4 separate regions of the Homo sapiens genome follow, and all the other regions are linked to region 2. Evidence: fine-mapped expression QTL. A gene starts in region 2. Each other region holds a variant in brackets. All regions are shown on one strand. Distances are from middle to middle.

Region 1 (2,743 bases), 86 kb after region 2:
TTGACTGTATTAGCTCTTTGTTATTATTGGGGAGGTAGCCAGAGGTCTCCAGATTCCCATAATGAATTTACAGGTGTGATCTTATGGACAAGGAGGAGTCAGCTGTATTAGTTGGGGGTTCAATCTTGCCTGATAAGCTTTTCCTAGTTGGTTTTACAGATACGAGCCCTGATCTACTCCCTGCTGCCACTGTCTGTTTCTATGATGCATGTCACCATGATATCTGAGTATGTATGAAAATATATTTAGGCTAATTTTAACTAGAATATGGAAAGGAAAAAGTTCTATTGCTCTGCATTGCTCTGTTTTCAGCAATCACTGTTTTTCACCACATATAGAAAGTTTGAAAGCTCTTCTCTGATGTCTAGGCAACCCAGATCTCCCAGTCTGAGTAAAAGATTAGATCTTAAAACTCTCCACTGATAGAGGTAGAAAACTGGGTTTTGGGATAAGATCATACTGAAATAGTTCTTTACTTTTGAGAATAGAATGAAAGCTACAGTCATCTTTGTATTCAGAAAAAATGTCCATTTGCACATATATATTTTGCATATAGTTTCACAGAGTTTCTGGATCCTCTGAAGCCCCTTGTGTCAAAAACCTCTGTCTTAATTTTAAGTTCCACAGCCTCCCAATTAATCCTGTTCTCACAGAAATCTTAGTATCTAGGTAAATTATTTTATTTTATTTTATTTTATTTTTTTGAGAAAGAGTCTCACTCTGTTGCCTAAGCTGGAGAGCAGTGGTGTGATTGCGGGTTCAAACAATCCTCCCACCTCAGCTCCTGCCCCAAGTAGCTGGGACTTAAAGGCACACACCATTATGCCTGGCTAACTTTTGTAAAGATGGAGTTTTACCATGTTGGCCAAGCTGGCCTCAAATTTCTGACCTTAGGTGATCTGCCCTCCTCTGTCTCCCAAAGTGCTGGGATTACAGGTGTGAGCCACTGCGCCCGGCCAGTATTTTTTCTTTATTTACTAGTCACACTGCGCTCCTACTGGGAACTTTAGGTTAGCAATCTCCTTTGCACTTCTTGAGGCTATAGACCATTTTGTTCACTATGTCTTATTTTTGGAGTGTTTTCTATAGCATATTGGGCCCCTATTTTAGTGTATCACATTGTTTTGCTATGTTTGCTTTTTTTTTTTTTTTTTTTTTT[G/TG]GAGACGGTCTCACTCTGTTGCCCAGGCTGGAGTGCAGTGCCACAGTCTCAGCTCACTGCAACCTCTGTCTCCTGGGCTCAAGTGATCCTCCCAACTCAGCCTCCTGAGCAGGTGGGACCATAGATGCAAGCCACCATGCCCCAGCTAATTTCATATGTTTTTACAATGATTTGTTTAAATATCTATATTTCCTCTCAAAAAAGTTCCTGGAGGGCAGGGCCTGTTTTTTAATCATTGTTACATCTCCAGCAGACTGCTTGGCTATTTATTTATTTTTTGAGACAGGGTCTTGCCCAGGCTGGAGTGCAGCGGCACAATCATGGCTCATTGTAGTCGCGACCTCCTGGGCCCAATGGATCCTCCCACCTCAGCCGCCCAAGTAGCTGGGACTACAGATGCGTACTACCATGCCTGGCTTATTTTTGTATTTTTTTTTTTAGAGATGGGGTTTCATCATGTTGCCCAGGCTGGTCTTGAAGTCCTGGACTCAAGTGATCTGCCTGCTTTGGCCTCCCAAATTGTTGGGATTATAGGCATGTGCCACAGCACCCGGCCTACTTAGCTTTTTAATAGGAACTCAGATAACATTTGGATGAACAAATAAATGGATGAATGGATATGTAAGATTTTCATTAATGATGGATCAACATTCTCCAAAAGCAGCACAATGTTGTGTTTGAGCCGAATAATAATAATAATAGAACCCAGTAGGATGTTGTTAATGTTTCTGTTGAGCTGACATCATCACCTTTGATAGGGCCAGCCATCCACCTTAGTTTATTTGATTTGTTGATGTGAGAGAGAGTAGTTAGTAATTTCTTTTGTTTTTCTCATTCTTCCTTACCCACAGGTGCATGGATTGCTTTTAACCAAGTAAAAATGGAAACTTTGATGGTTTCTAAGCCATTAAGCAAAGATTGAGCAGGATGTGCAGAGAGAAGTGTGTAGTTGTTGGAGAGAGAAATACTTGAACAGAGCTTCATGGAGTCAGCTTATTTTACTTCCACTGCAGGAAGAAGGGGCATTGGAGAGGCAGGCTGCATTTAAATAGTATGACTTTCCATCGTCTGAAAACATGGGTTGTTTTAAAGGCAGATTTATACTGACATTTTATATTCAACATTTATCTATGGATCACAGTTGTTACCCTCTCACTCTGCCACATCCCGGTGATAAGTCGTTATTTTTATCCCCATTTGTTGGGGAAGGGAGTAGAGATATAGAAGGGTTAAGTGACTTGCTAAGGATCATGGAACCAGACGCTAAACAGAGTCATGATTAGAACTTAGAGTTCCTGACTCCTATGCTCAGACACAGATCACTAAGCAACATTTGCTTGCCTGCAGGAAGAAAGGCCCCCTAAGCCCCCAGAACAATCTGTTCAGCTTCACTGTGCTAAGTAACATCCAAAGCATTCACAGCTTTGTGAAAAAGAAATTGTACATGGCCTGACCTTTTAGATATCTACTGGGAAAAATGGAAAACCCAGGGAGTATCACAGCGTTCTGGATCCAGCTGGCTCTCCTATTACTGGCAGAGGCCTATGACTTCTTGGTTAGGTACATCTCAAGACTGGCAATTGA
Region 2 (2,500 bases):
AATCACATCTATATTCTATTTCTAATATAGCTATTCTTATTTTAATTATTTTCTTTATTATACTGGAACAGCTTGTGTCTTCGGTCTCTTGACTCGGCACCTGGGTGGCTTGCCGCCCACAGAACTCTTCTCCACTTCTTTTTTGTTTTGAGACGGAGTCTCGCTCTGTCGCCCAGGTTGGAGTGCGATGGCGCGATCTTGGCTCACTGCAACCTTCGCCTCCCAGGTTCAAGCGATTCTCCTGCCTCAGCCTCCCGAGTAGCTGGGATTACAGAGGACTGCCAACACGCCCGGCCATTTTTTGTATTTTTAGTAGAGATGGGGTTTCACCATGTTGGCCAGGCTGGTCTCGAACTCCTGACCTCAGGTGATCCACCCGCCTTTGCCTTCCAAAGTGTTGGGATTACAGGTGTGAGCCACCGCGCCTGGCTTATTTTATTTTTTTTACTTGTTTTTTCTTTTTAATAGTATTCTTGCTGTTATAGCACATCTTTTTAAACCTTCCATTTGTGTATAAAAAAACAGAGACTCAGGCTGGGTGCGGTGGCTCACGCCTGTAATCCCAGCATTTTGGGAGGCAGAGGCGGGTGGATCACCTGAGGCCAGGAGCTTGAGACCAGCCTGGCAACATGGTGAAACCTTGTCTCTACTAAAAAATACAAAAATTAGCCGGGCGTGGTGGTACACTCCTGTAATCCCAGCTACTGGGGAGGCTGAGGCAGGAGACTCTCTTGAACCCGGGAGGCAGAGGTTGCAGTGAGCCGAGATCGCACCACTGCACTCCAGCCTGGGCAATAGAGTGAGACACCATCTCGAAAAAAAAAAAAAAAAAGAAAACAAAGACTCAGAGGCAGGGAGTGGTGGCACGTGCCTGTAATCCCAGCTACCAGAGGCAGAGGCAGGAGGACTGCTTGAGCCTAGGAGGTGGAGGCTGCACTGAGCTGTAATTGTGCCACTGCGGCACTCCAGCCTGGGCAAGGGCAAGATCCTGTCTCAAAAAAAAAAAAAAGGAAAAGAAAAGAAAATAGATTTCTGGCCAAGTTAATAGAGCTTTACACGCTACTTTGCACTTATCAGGCACACACGTATTTGTTGAAAGAATGAGTTTGTTTTCAATCTTTCACGTACAAAGTTGTAATACACATTTGGAAAATATATCTTTCCAAACTTCGCCAGTATTTCTAGAGGATACATGTATTCCTAGAAGTAAAATTGCTGAGGTCAAAGAGTCGGCCATGTTTCGGAAAACTGCTATTGCGACCCAGTAGGCCCTCAATAGACAAGTCCACTGCGAATTTATTTCTCGCGATGCCTTTCGGGAGTTGTAGTCTTTGCGATGCTTGCTGGGAATCGTGGTCTGAGCCGGTCTCAGGAAGCGGGCGTGGACTAACCCATTGCGCGCCGGGCTTTAGGACCCGGCGGGGCGCGGGGACACGGGAAGGGTCGGGGAGGTCGGGAGCGCGCCCGTGAGCCCGGAGCAGCGGCAGCGTCGGTGGCGTCGAGAGCGAGCGGGCCCGGGAACGGCGCGGGTGGTAGAGGAGGAGCCGCGGGCTCGGTAAGCGGCGGCGGCCAGGCCCGGCCCGGTCCTCGAACCTGACCAACCCTGCGGGTCCTGCCATACTAGGCCTTGGCCCCGAGGCGGTTCTGGGGGCGGGGCCTGCGCTGGCCGCGGGGACGACGAGGACGCGAGGGGAGAGGGAGGGAGGACGGCTGCTGAAGCTGCGTATGCCGGGGAGGGCTGGGCCTGGGGGCGGCCGAGCCTAGAGAGAAACGGCTTCGCTCTTCCAGCGGCCGGTCCCTCGGACCACACGGTCCCGGTCACGTCCCTCTCCCGCATCCCTGCGGGGCCTTCTGGCTTCCGAGGTGCTGACCTTTGACCCCGCCAGCTGCCCCGAGAGCTTCCTCTCCTGCTGTTCTTGGTCCTGGGGTGCGGGCGTAGGGCAAGGCACCTCTGAGAATCTCAGGGATAGAGGAAAGCGGGTTTGTGCGAAGTCTTCAGGTGTCCCGGAAGGGCTCCAGTCCTGTCCCTCTCCAGGCTCTGACAGGCTTTAACCCACTCTTCACACGGAATCAGTGAAGCTACTGTGTTTTCTTTGGGTTACTCGGCGAGAGCCCAGGAAAGGAACCTGTTCCCAGGAGGGTATAGGGAAGGAAAAAGTAGAGAGAAACCTGGTCCCCTGGAGAAGGAGAAGCTGAGGCGTGCTGCCCCTGGCGAATGGGGAAGCAGAAACTTGGGCCATACCCAAATGTATGTCACTGGATCATCCGACCCTCCGCAGTTCTTCCTCTCCAGAAAGTTTTTTATTTTATTTTATTTATTTATTTATTTATTTATTTATTTTGAGATGGAGTTTCGCTGTTGTCGCCCAGTCTGGAGTGCAGTTGCCCGATCTCGGCTTACCACAACCTCTGCCTCCGGGGTTCAAGCGATTCTCCTGCCTCAGCCTTGCGCTACCACGCCCAGCTAATTTTATATTTTTGATAGAGACGGGATTTCTCC
Region 3 (2,743 bases), 300 kb after region 2:
GTGGGGGCTCCTGAGCTGAGTGGCAGAGGGGGTTCCTGAGAAGGGATGAGAGCAGCCCAGGGAGGGAGGGTGGCTGCTAGGGGTGTCCTTAAATGAGGTGTGATGGGTAGATGGGGCTCTGGGAAAAAGAGCTTGACGACAAGGTGAGCCGAGTGACCAAATGGCTAAAGCCACAGCTTTGTGCTGAGTGTGGGGGGCGGTCAGAGCCTAAGCAGGTGGTGTTTAAAGTTGCTATTTTGGCCTGGGCAACCCTGGTATGAGTGTGTACGAGTGTGTGAGGGATGAGAGAGTCTGGTATCGGTGGCAGGCCCTGTGCAAGAACCCGGCCCCAGGAAGCAGGCCCCCATCTGGGCACTTTCATCAGACCAGCGGGGTAGGTAGACAGAGGGAATGGAAAGCAAAGGGGATTTTCCTTGTTTTCACTCCCCCCCACCCCTGGCATTTGCTCTGACACTGCTGTGGCATCCTCCAGGCCTCAGCAGAGTCAGAGAAGGAAGTCAGAGGAATGGCCACAGGGACAGCCAGAAATCAGAAGTGGCTTGGTGTGAGGGTGAGGGGCAAGGGCTTTGGAGTCCAGCAGCCCTGAGCTTGAACCCTGGCTCTGTCACTGCCTGGTCATTTAATCGGGGCAAGTCAGCTCACCTCTCCCAGCCCCCACTTCCTCACCTGCACAACAGGGAATCACTCCACCATAGGAGTTGCCAGGACTGAGTTAAAATGAGTGTGTCGAGTGTCCAGCGGGTACCTTAACAATGCTTCCTAACAGTGATGGTGGCTACTGCCGGGAAGGAATCTGGGAGACGGGGTGGGCCACCTGAGCCAAGTCCCTGGGAGCCCAGGTTTGCACAGTGGCATCATCAGAGAGCCACCGAGGAGCAGAGTCTGTAAGGAGGCTGCTTCCCTGGGGAAACAGCTCTGGCAGCCGAGGGCCTAAGGCAGCCAGGAGGCTGGGAAAGAGGCTGGGCAAGGTCCCTCATGCACACCGAGACTGGCTGGCCTCTCCCCATCCCTTCCACTCATCCAAGCAGGTGTGGCTGCCAAAGGCCCCGGCCCCTGAAGGCCTGGGAGAACTGAGATGGACGGATGATGTGGTGGCTGCAAGGGGATGGTTTCCCTGCTTATCCCGGGGGCCAGTGTGCACGTTCTTGCCTCTCTGTCCCTCAGGCCTGGCTTTGCCTCCC[A/G]CCCCTCTCACTCCAAATAAGCCCAGGCAAATTGGCGAAAAGTCAAGCCTGAGTTGCTGGAGTTGGGAAAAACAGAACAAGAGAGAAGCACTGAGAACACAGCTGACATTCAAGGCTCTGACCTTTCCTCTAGCCAAATGCGAAGGCTTTCCTTTCCCTAGTGCCTTGCGTTGATTCACGAAGGGTTTACTGAGCACTTCCTACATGCCAGGCAGTAGAGTGTTGGGAAGCAATGGTGCACAGGTTGGATAGATCCCTGACTCCTAAGGCCTCCCATGTAGCAGATGGCCATGGTTAGACAGGCCTTCCTGATGAGGAGTGGGGAAGGCTGAGACAGGAAGAGCAGGGTTTGTGTGAAGACGCTGGGGTTTAGGGGATGGGGGCAGGAATGCTGAGTGTGCTGGCCATGGCTGGTTTTTAGGCAGCTGAAAACTGGTGGAAGACAGGACCCTGGGCTGGTTCTGCTGGAGTTCAGCTCCACTTGGCTCAGTCCCAGTTGAATTCCATGCACACTGAGTATTGAATTACTGGAGAGAGCAGGGTGGATGTGGCAAGGTCCCTGCCTTCAGGCTGGCCCATGTATTGGGCTTCCCAGAGTAGTGAACCTGAGTCTACTACACAACATGGCGCAGGTAACACGTGGGTTAGCACCAGGCACTGTGCTTGCGTGGCTCACAAGCGCCTTCACAGAGAAGACAGACGAGAATGGAATTGCTGTAGGATCCTCCGGGAAACTTGTCTTTTCTGAACCTTAATTTCCTCATCTGGAAAGTAAAAGGTTTGAATTAGATTATTTGCTTAAAAATTTTTTTTAGCAACAGAAACTTTTTTCCTGAGCAAAACCTGTATGGAAGCCTGTTTTATAAAATAGACTTAAACAATATTTGCTTTGGATGCCTCAGGGATTGGGGTCCCTTCAGCTTCTTGTGCCTGGTATCTCAACTGCAGCAGGTGGTAAAGGAGATGAAGGGTCTGAACCCTTCAGAACTCTCTTGGGCATCCAGGAGAGGATGATAGCCAGGACCTACCAGAGAAGAGATGGGTGGGCTCCAGGCCGGCTGCCCAGGGTCAGCCCCTGGGCCTCGATGGGAAGGTGCTTCCAGGACAAGGAGCCCAGCTCTGCTCCCTCTCAGAGCACCTGGACTAGTGGGGTTGTTCCCACTGCCTCCCAGAGAGGCTCCTGACTCTTCCTGCACTGACCACTCACACCCAGGGATTATCCCAACCAGAAACTTCCATTTGGAACAAAGCTCCCAGGAATGAAACCCGAGCTGCCACTAAGAGGCTCCCAGGCTAACTGGGAAGTGGCTGGGAAAGGGAGGGAAAACTTGCAAAGCACTGGGAGCCTCAGGGAGGCTGTGAAACCTGAAGACAAACGACCAGCCAGCGGACTGGTGCTGCGGAGCTGCCACCGCCTTCTGCAGAAAGGTCAGGGCTGAGCAGAGTGGGAAAACGGGGGTGGGGGAGAAGTGAACCCCAGGCTTTCTTTGAGGGGAGAGTAATTGGTGCACCTGTGGCTAGGGCCTATATCCCCTGTGAGGCCCTCAGGGCTGCAGTCACTC
Region 4 (2,743 bases), 320 kb after region 2:
GTTCCTCTGGGCATTAACGCCACTATCAGTGATGGCCTCTGTGCAATATTTGGAGACAGGGGAACTGGTGAATATTTGGAAATGGGAAATCCCAAGTGAGGACTCGATTCACTCCTTTGGAAAAGGCCTCACTGAAGCCTGAGAGCCAGCCATCCTAACCTGTGTCCAGGGACCAAGGACTAGCCCCCAGAGAGGCTGCCCTTGGGGATGAGGGGTTTCCCTGTAGCCCCGGATGCAAATGGTCGGTTGTAACAGTGGCCATCTGTAAGACATGGGCTAGATACCAGGTGATTTATAGGCATTATTTCAATCACCTCACAATAACTGTACAAGGTGGGTGAAGTGATTTGCCCAAAGCCAGTGTTGTTAGGATTCAAACCCAGGCCTGTCTAATGCTGGAAGCTGTGGTACATTTCCATTTTGCCCTTTGATTTTCTGTAAAAGTATAACAGGCATTAAAAGTGAGCCTCTGTTACATGCCAGGTACTCTACTGGGCTTCTTACATATATTATTGAATTGAATCTATGCAGTAATCCTTTTGGAAGGATATTATGAGCTGGACACAGTGGCGCACATCTGTAATCCCAGTTACTCAGGAGGGGAAGATGGGAGGATCCCTTGAGCCCAGGAGTTGGAGGCTGCAGTGCACTATGACTTGCCTGGGAAACAGAGCGAGATCCCATTTCTCTCTCTCACTTTTTAGAGATGGAGTCTTGCTCTGTTGCTCAGGCTGGAGTGCAGTGGTGTGACCGTGGCTCAATGTAATCCTCCTACCTTGGCTTCCCAAGTAGCTGGGACCACACGTGTGTGAACCACACCTAGCTAATTTTTTTCTTTTTCTTTTTCTTTTTTTTTTTTTTTTTTTTTTAGAGATGTGATCTTGCTGTGTTGCCCAGGCTAGTTTTATTTATTTATTTATTTATTTTGAGATGGAGTCTTGCTCTGTCGCCCAGGCCAGAGTGCAGTGGTACGATCTCAGCTCACTGCAAGCTCCGCCTCCCAGGTTCATGTCATTCTCCCGCCTCAGCCTCCCGAGTAGCTGGGACTACAGGTGCCTGCCACCACGCCCAGCTAATTTTTATTTTTAGTGGAGACGGGGTTTTACCATGTTAGCCAGGATGGTCTCGATCTCCTGACCTCGTGATCTGCCCACCTCGGCCTCCCAAAGTGCTGGGATTACAGGCGTGAGCCACCGCGCCGCCCGGCCTGCCCAGGCTAGTTTTAAACTCCTAGCCTCAAGCAATCCTCCCACCTGAGCCTCCCAAAGTGCTGGGATTACAGGCATGAGCTACTGTACCTGACATTTAAAAGACTTTTTTTTTTTTTGTATTTTTTGTAGAGACAGGGTCCCACTATGTTGCCCAGGCTGGTCTCAAACTGCTGGTCTCAAGTGGGCGTCCCTCCTCAGCCTCCCAAAA[C/T]GCTGCAATTACAGGCATGAGCCACCATGCCCAGAGCCATCTCTTTTTAAAAAATAAAGAGAAGCCGGGGGCGGTGGCTCACGCCTGTAATCCCAGCACCTTGGGAGGCCAAAGTGGGCGGATCACCTGAGGTCAGGTGTTCAAGACCAGCCTGGTATACGTGGTGAATCCCCGTCTCTACTAAAAATACAAAAATTAGCCAGGCGTGCTAGTGCATACCTGTAATTGCAGCTATTCAGGAGGCTGAGGCAGGAAAATCACTTCAACCCGGGAGGCAGAGGTTGCAGTGAGCTGAGATTGTGCCACTGCATTCCAGCTTGGCGACAGAGCGAGACTCCATCTCAGCAACAAATAAATAAATAAATAAATAAAGAGAAAAAAATAAGGATATTATGATTTCCCTTTTACAGATGAAGAAGCTGAGGTTTAGAAAAGTCCAGTAATGAGGTTGGGCGCGGTGGCTCACGCCTGTAATCCCAGCACTTTGGGAGGCCAAGGTGGGTGGATTACCTGAGAACCTGAGGTCAGGAGCTCGAGACCAGTCTGACCAACATGGTGAAACCCCATCTCTACTAAAAATACAAAAATTAGCTGGGCCTGGTTGTGGGCACCTGTAATTCCAGCTACTCAGGAGGCTGAGGCAGGAGAAATGCTTGAACCTGAGAGGCGGAGGTTGCAGTGAGCCAAGATCTCGCCATTGCACTCCAGCCTGGGAGGCAGAGCGAGACTCCGTCTCAAAAAAAAAAAAAAAAAAAAAAAAAAGAAAGAAAGAAAGAGACAGAAAAGGCCAGTAATTTACCCAAGGTTGCATACTCTGTAAAAAGGAATAACAAAATTCACATTGGAATTTATTGACTCCTAAATGCATGCACTGTCTTCTACCCCGTGTCAGGGGCCAAAGTTTTCAATTTGGATTGAGGATTTGGACCAGTGCTGGCTTTAACCCAGCAAGCACTTGTTTAGGGAACAGGTAAGAGCTCAGATTTGTCTGAACTTCCCTCAGGACCCCAGGTTCTTGCTTTGACACCCACTATGGGGTAAACCAGAGCAAAGCCCTGAGAGGAGGCAGCTGTTCCTCTTTCTGCAAGAGGGTCACAAGGAATCTCTGCGATGTTGCCATTGTTGTGCTTTAGTCCCCCCATCCTGTGCATCTAGGTCCTGCTGAGTCTTTGGCTCTCTTGATTTTGTTTAAAAGAAAAATACCCCATGCCACAGACTCACAGGGGTGGAAAGGACTTTGAAGGAGAGTTATTAGTACAACCTTCCATCTGATGCTTCACGGTGCCCCAGTTTCTTCCTCTGTCTCTCAAGATTTCACAAGGTA

Alleles and levels. Alleles are on the strand shown, and positions count from the first base shown. SD is a standard deviation of normalised expression in the study named. Not every link is listed here.
In carriers of allele G in region 1, the expression in subcutaneous fat of the gene that starts at base 1,467 in region 2 tends to be lower than with TG alone (moderate effect, 0.48 SD a copy in TwinsUK).

What was found. PIP is the estimated chance that this variant, and not a neighbour inherited with it, causes the effect.
Region 1: its variant is fine-mapped to the expression of ARMH3 in subcutaneous fat (TwinsUK, PIP 0.90).
Region 3: its variant is fine-mapped to the expression of ARMH3 in whole blood (TOPMed, PIP above 0.99).
Region 4: its variant is fine-mapped to the expression of ARMH3 in whole blood (TOPMed, PIP above 0.99).

What each region holds. Positions count from the first base shown.
Region 1 is chr10:101,969,512-101,972,254 of GRCh38, reverse strand. All of the region lies in intron 20 of ARMH3 (armadillo like helical domain containing 3), which reads left to right. Among named protein-coding and RNA genes, the nearest start is that of ARMH3, 85 kb to the left of the region's middle. The variant G/TG (reference allele first, on the strand shown) is at 1,160.
Region 2 is chr10:102,055,140-102,057,639 of GRCh38, reverse strand. ARMH3 (armadillo like helical domain containing 3) reads left to right here and starts at 1,467. Exons shown (of 26, transcript NM_024541.3): 1 at 1,467-1,555. RefSeq lists a silencer at 1,378-1,767.
Region 3 is chr10:101,759,613-101,762,355 of GRCh38, reverse strand. All of the region lies in intron 2 of LOC105378458 (a long non-coding RNA gene), which reads left to right. Among named protein-coding and RNA genes, the nearest start is that of FGF8, 15 kb to the left of the region's middle. The variant A/G (reference allele first, on the strand shown) is at 1,182.
Region 4 is chr10:101,736,624-101,739,366 of GRCh38, reverse strand. The region is part of intron 3 of LOC105378458 (a long non-coding RNA gene); the gene reads left to right. Among named protein-coding and RNA genes, the nearest start is that of LINC03046, 7.9 kb to the right of the region's middle. The variant C/T (reference allele first, on the strand shown) is at 1,420.